2 linked regions of the Homo sapiens genome follow. The protein of the gene in region 1 interacts with the protein of each later gene in a pairwise test. Each region holds a gene or a part of one and is shown on either strand. Other genes may lie near its edges.

The links. Proteins that work in one complex are often made in the same cells at the same time.
Region 2: the proteins of RCN3 (region 1) and PRUNE2 interact in a two-hybrid assay, tested with the Homo sapiens proteins (one large-scale study listed by BioGRID and IntAct).

The regions. Positions count from the first base shown.
Region 1 is NC_000019.10:49,537,899-49,541,067, forward strand, and holds part of RCN3 (reticulocalbin-3 precursor), read left to right. Parts: intron 1-1,109; coding exon of another isoform or gene 1,110-1,220; coding exon 1,221-1,281; intron 1,282-3,169. UniProt on the Homo sapiens protein: Probable molecular chaperone assisting protein biosynthesis and transport in the endoplasmic reticulum.
Region 2 is NC_000009.12:76,703,550-76,707,153, forward strand, and holds part of PRUNE2 (protein prune homolog 2), read right to left. Parts: coding exon 1,212-3,604; intron 551-1,211; coding exon 1-550. UniProt on the Homo sapiens protein: May play an important role in regulating differentiation, survival and aggressiveness of the tumor cells.

The DNA.
Region 1 (3,169 bases):
AAAGTGCTGGGATTACAGGCATGAGCCACCGTGCCTGGCCCCAAAATGTGCTTTGTTCTATAGAAGAAGGCTTTTTTTTTCTTTCCTTCCTCTTTTTTTTTTTTAGTTTTTGAGACAGGGCCTAACTCTGTTACCCAGACCGGAGGGCAGTGGCTCAATCTCAGCTCACTGCAACCTCAAACTCTTGGGCTCAAGTAATCCTCCCACCTCCGCCTTCTGAGAAGCTGAGGCCACCAGGCACAAGCCACCATGTCTGGCTAATGTTTTTTTTTTTTTTTTTTTCAGACGGAGTCTCGCTCTGTCGCCCATGCTGGAGTGCAGTGATGCGATCTCGGCTCACTGCAAGCTCTGCCTCCCGGGTTCACTCCATTCTTCTGCCTCAGCCTCCCGAGTGGCTGGGACTACAGGCGCATGCCGCCATGCCCGGCTAATTTTTTTTTTTTTTTTTTTAGTAGAGACGGGGTTTCACTGTGTTAGCCAGGATGGTCTCGATCTCCTGACCTCGTGATCCACCCACCTCGGCCTTCCAAAGTGCTGGGATTACAGTTGTGAGCCACCACGCCCGGCCATGCCTGGCTAATTTTTAAATTTTGTGTAGAGACAGGGTCTCGCCATGTTGCCCAGGCTAGTCTCAAAATCCTGGGCTCAATCGATCCTCCCGCCTCGGCCTCCCAAAGTGCTGGGATTACAGGTGTGAGCCACCGTGCCCAGCCCACAGTCTTATAGTGAATGAGTTTGGATATAAATTGGGGAACAAAAGTCGTTTTGCTCCAGAAGGGCACAAAAACAAGGAGCGGAGGTGTCCAGTGTGTCAGAAGAAGCCCCAAAGTGCACCATGTTCACACATAAAGCAGAGGTAGGTTCTAGGCTCTGCTAAACATAAAGGAGCTTCTCCCCTTGGAGGGTGTTTGCTGGGGCTTGAGCAAGTTATTAGGGACCCAGGACAGCTCCCCTTGTGAGCAACAAACCTGTGCACTGCTGGACATTAGGGCCTCTGGGCTCTGGCCCCGTAAATGCAGGTGGTGCCTGTTTGATGATAACATCCCAGAAAGCCCGCAAATTTCCCACATGCCACCTGTTGAGACTGCTCTACTGCCTGCCTCCCACAGCTGCCCGGAGCTAAATTTCCAAGAGAACCTCTCACTCTTACCCCAGGGGTCCAGCCTCCCCCAGGAGCCAGGGTCATCGGCCCCCAGCCTCAATGCCCCTTTCTCCTCCAGGAAACCCTGGAGGACCTGGACAGAAACAAAGATGGCTATGTCCAGGTGGAGGAGTACATCGGTGAGTGGGCCCCAATTTCTTCTTGGGATGCCTGTCCTCTCTCAGGCATGGGCAGGGTTGGTGGGGGTAGCCGGAGGTACATCACCCATCATCAGAGAACAGTGGCCCTCAGACATGGGGGCAGGGGCACTCACTGCTTGAGTTCATTTAGCCACCCAACATTTATTGAGCACCTACTCTATACCAGACACAAAAAGCATCTATTGAGCACCTGCTGTGTGTCACGCCCAGGATACACTTACTGAGCACCTACTGCATATGGGTGGTTGCGCCTACAGCAGACAATAACACAGACAAATCCCTTCTTGGGGGTCTGGAGTTTCTACAAAATCAAGGCTCAGGGGCTATGTTTAGTTGAGAATGGGGGTCAGGAAGCTGGTCTTGAACCTGCGCCTGCACAGCAAACACTGTTTCCTGTTACATGGGATGTTGGGGGATCCTCACAATACCCCCTGAGTTCTGAGTTCTCCCTGGGCCCCTGCCACTGTCCCTGCCCCTAGCGGGCAAAAAATTTAGTCAAGGAGAACGCTAACAAGGAATTTTTTTTTTTTTTTTTTTTTTTTGAGACAGTTTTTTTCTGTTGCTCAGGCTGGAGCGCGGTGGCGTGGTATCGGCTCTCTGCAACCTCCGCCTCCCGGGCTCAAGAGATTCTTCTGCCTCAGCCTCCTGAGTAGCTGGGATTACTGGTGCCTGCCACCACGCCTGGCTAATTTTTGTATTTTTAGTGGAGATGGGATTTCACCATGTTGGCCAGGCTGGTCTAGAACTCCCAACCTCAGGTGATCTGCTCATCTTGGCCTCCCAAAGTGGTGGGATTACAGGCGTGAGCAACCACGCCCGGCCAGGAATTTTTTTTTAAGTTTGAAAACATTGTTTATTCTTTTATTTTTTTCTGACCACATCCTACATGAGAAAACATTTTTCTTTCTTTCCTTCTCTCACTTTCTTTCTTTCTGTCACTCTTTCTTTCTATCTGTCTGTCTGTGTGTGTGTGTGTCTCTCTCTTTATTAAATAGAGATGGGTTCTCACTATATTGTCCAGGCTGGTCTAGAACTCCTGGGCTCAAGCAATCTTCCCACCTTGGCCTCCCAAAGAGCTGAGATTACAGGCATGAATCACCACACCTGGCTGAGAGAACATTTTTATATTTTTTTCTTAAGAGATGGGGTTGGGCCAGGCGCAGTGGCTCATACCTGTAATCCCAGCACTTTGGGAGGCTGAGATGGATGGATCATGAAGTCAGGAGTTCGAGACCAGCCTGGCCAAGATGGTGTACTAAAAATACAAAAATTAGCCGGGCCTGTTGGCAGGAGCCTGTAATCCCAGTTACTCTGGGGACTGAGGCAAGAGAATCTCTGGAACCCGGGAGGCAAAGGTTGCAGTGAGCTGTAATCGCGCCATTGCACTTCAGTCTGGGCAACAAGAGCGAAACTCCATCTTAAAAAAAAAAAAAAAAGATGGGGTCTTGCCCTGTCGCCCAGGCTGGAGTGCAGTGGGGTGATCTTGGCTCACTGCAGCCTTGACCTCCTGGGCTCAAGGGATCCTCCCACCTCAGCCTCCCAAGTAGCTGAGACTCCAGGCACAGTGCGGCCTCTGGAGATACTTCTGGTTGTCACTTCTAGAGGGGTGAGGATGCTACTGACGTCTCCTGGATAGAGCCCAGAGATGCTCCTTAGCATTCTCCGGTGCACAGGACAGGCCCTGACAACAAGGAGGTCACAGGCCCCAGATGCCAGCAGCTGTCCCCATCTCTTTTTTTTTTTTTTTGAGACAGAGTCTCGCTATTGTCGCCCAGGCTGGAGTGCAGTGGCATGATCTCGGCTCACTGCAACCTCCGCCTCCCAGGTTCAAGCAATTCTCTTGTTTCAGCCTCCTGAGTAGGTGGGA
Region 2 (3,604 bases), on another chromosome or scaffold:
AGTGCCAAAGATTCTAGAGGCTTCATTTCTTCCAGAATCTGCAGCTGGGGACCCTCACCCAAGCCGAGTTCAGAGAACGGCTCCACAGTCTTGCCAGACCACCCAGGCCCTGAGTCCCTGGCATCCAGTGATGGATCACCAACCTCACTATGGCCCAAGAACATCCAACTCTGGTCTTGTGCAGGGCTTTCAAAAGATGATCTCGTATCGCTTTTAGAAGACATTTTCTCTGCAGAGAGACCTTTTCTTTCATTTAAGGAGGCTGGCTGACATGTGTCTGGGAAGCTTGCTAACTGAGTTCCCTGCAGCCCTGTTTCTTTGGAACCTACATACAATTCTAATTCAGCTATGCTTTCTCTTTCTTCACAGGTCTCTGGCTTTGAGTGTGAATTTTCTTCACGGTTTACAAGTATGTAATCCATGTGTAGTGCATGACGATCTTCATTCTTCTCTGTACATCTTTCTTCCTTGTATTCTGATTTTATCTGCTCAGGCTCTTTGGTAGGAATTGTTTTTTCTTCTTCCAATTCTGATATTTCCTTGCTGGCACCTAGAAGTGGAAGTTGAAAGTGAGAAGAGGAGAAAAAGGTTTAATTAACACATTGTGTGATTTGTGATCCTTGCAAATGATCATCTAAAAGAGGTAATTTAATATTTTTTATATATTTTATTTATTTATTCATTCATTCATTTGAGACAGAGTCCCGCTCTGTCACCCAGGATAGAGTGCAATGGTGTGATCTCGGCTCACTGCAACCTCCACCTCCTGGTTTCAAGCTATTCTTCTGCCTCAGCCTCCCGAGTAGCTGGGACTACAGGCACCTGCCCCCACGCCCAGCTAATTTTTGTATTTTTAGTAGACATGGGGTTTCACCATGCTGCCCAGGCTGGTCTCGAACACCTGACATCAGGTGATCCCCCCTCCTTGGCCTCCCAAAGTGCTGAGATTACAGGCGTGAGCCACCGCGCCCAGCTAGAAAATATTTTTATTTTGTAGAGTCATTCGATTTTCTCGTGCACTATCAGGAATAGGTATTACATATGCACTAGATTTTACTGCTGTTATAATACAGGACTTAGTGAGGCATGCCTTGAAAATGTAGTTAGTTTTCTCTCTACCCTCATTGGTAGGAAGAGTGTGTCTTACAAATATGCACTAGTTTAATCAACGCAGCAGTTTCTTGGAAGTGGAAGAATGGAATGTTTCTTACCATTTGGTGGTCCTATGTCTCCACCTGCTGGTAAATCAGAATTATCTGTTTCTACTTCCCAGTCAACGTTTGATGGAGACAAAATGTTGGAGCCTGCTCCTACCGGCAAATAAACGGACTCAGGGTCTTCACGAATATGCAGCACAGCCAGCTGGGATCCAGGCAGTCTGTTTTTGGTCTCAGCCTGGTTTCCCTCACTTCTTCGATCAGGAAGTGCAGAAAGCACTATCTCTGCTGCTCTGCATCCCAGAGATTCATCCTCTGGAGACCCAGCTTCCTCTATTGTTTCAGCACTCTGGGCAGGTTCTGTGAGATAAGACAAATCAAAGGGAGGTGTGTACGGTGCCAGCGACTGCTTCAGAGAATCTTCCTCCAAAGGAGGGTCACCACCATACAGGAAGTGTTCAGGCTCTCTCAGTAAATCTTCATCGATATTCTGGCCCATTACATCATATTCAAAATCACCCCACGAGGCTTCAGATGAGCAGATATCTTGCTTCCCTAGGTCCCCATCAACTGGCGTTTCCGGATGGCCTTCGGATAATGTCAGTTTACTCATGTCATCTATTGTTCCCGTGGATGTGTTGAGACCTGAGGCATCGCTGAAACTGTGGTCAAAGGCAGCTTCGCTTATATCCAGACAAGTGTCTGAGGCTAGCAAAGCATCAGGAACCAAGGCAGGATTCTCTGTGGATAAATGTGGATCACCATCAAACAAAGCTCTTGCACCAGGCTGACTTTCAGGAGAAAAGCTGTCTGATATCCAAGAACCGTCACCTTCTGGAGTTGGCTCTTGGTGAGTTACAAAAATGCTAGTTGCCACATTTTCAATCCTTGGGATTCTTCTGTCAACTGGTTCCAAAATTGGTGCCATATCTGGGCTGGCTCCTTTTTCTGATACTTGTAAACCTGTACTGTTGTCACCGTTTATTTCAGAAGGTTCAGGTGAACCTTTATGAGAGGCGGGCTGAGAGGAGCCCTTTATGTCTGCTTGATAGCCAATTGGAGGCAGCACAGTTGCGTTTTCAGAATCGAGTTCTGCATTGGATGGGACAAACTCCCGTCCAGGCTCATAAATGGGTTCTTCATCTATCTCTGGCTCAGTGAGACAAAGCTCACTGGATTCCACTTCAGGTCCCATGCAAGCACTGAGGTGCTTCTCAGTCTCTTGCTTTGCTTCAGAATCGTGACATATATCAGGGCTGTCGGAAGCCTGAGAATTGCTGTCATGTTCGCAGTGCGTCAGGATATCAGGATTCTCACCATCTGCTTTCAAACTGAAGGGCTTCTTAGCATCTATCCACAAGTCAGGCGCGGCAGAGGCCAGCTGCCCACCCTCTTGAAAGTTGCCATGTAAAATATCTGGCACAAAGGTACCTCGGGAGTCCTCACTTGGGGTAGAGCCATCCCATTCAGAGCCTGGCTTCATTATCAGTTGGGTGGGAGAACTGACAGCAGGAAAATTTTCTGTGGCAATGCTTGAATTTGTCATCTCACCTAGGTATGATTTTTCTTGTTCCCACTGATTTGTTTCTTGACCTTCATTAGTTGAAACATTAGATGTAACACAACTATTTTCCTCTGCGTGAGTAAAGGCTGTGTCCGGATGATCACAGACTGGCAGCATGGTGTCCTGACACTGCTCTTGGGTAGGTGTTTCAGGAGTCAGCTCATCACCAGCAGCAGACACAAAGGTTTGCTCTCTTGAGTCCTTTTCTTTAATTTGGTCTAATTTTACAAGCTGGCTGAACTTGTCAGCATCTGGGTCTGGCTGCCTTGGTTGAATGTTCCAGAGTTGCTCATGGGAGTTCTTCCCATTACCTTCCAGAAAGGGTGACTGATGGTTGTCACTAAAAGGATTAGTATAGTGTGTTTCCACGGGCTCAATATCACCCTGAACTGGTACTCCCCAGGGACTGGCATTTTGGTGTACTGAAGAATTTATCTCCAACACACCACTGGAGTCAGACAGCTCCCTTTCAAATGGACTTTCAATTAGTCTCCCTTCCTGGGGTGAGGCCTTCCACCACTCAGTGCTATCAGCTGAGAAGCCCAGCATTTCCAGTTGAGAATTATCTTCGTTCTTTGGGAACGAAGCTTTGGGAGATATTTGCCATGCAACATCTCCTGTTGTCCCTGTTTCTGGAGAAGATCTCTTCTCCTTCTCCACTGCTGTAATCTGCATTTCAGTCTCCGTTAATGGTGAGAAAGTCCAGGGATCAGGGCTGCTTTGTTGATTGTCACAGAATGGGTTTGACTTATTCTCATTCTCTGCTGGCTCTGAGCTGTCTAGGTAGTCATAAATATTTTCAGACTTAGGATCAGCTGTGACCAAGAACTTATTAGATTCATTCAATGAATCCCAAGCTCTGGATTCATCCTCAGCAACGTGG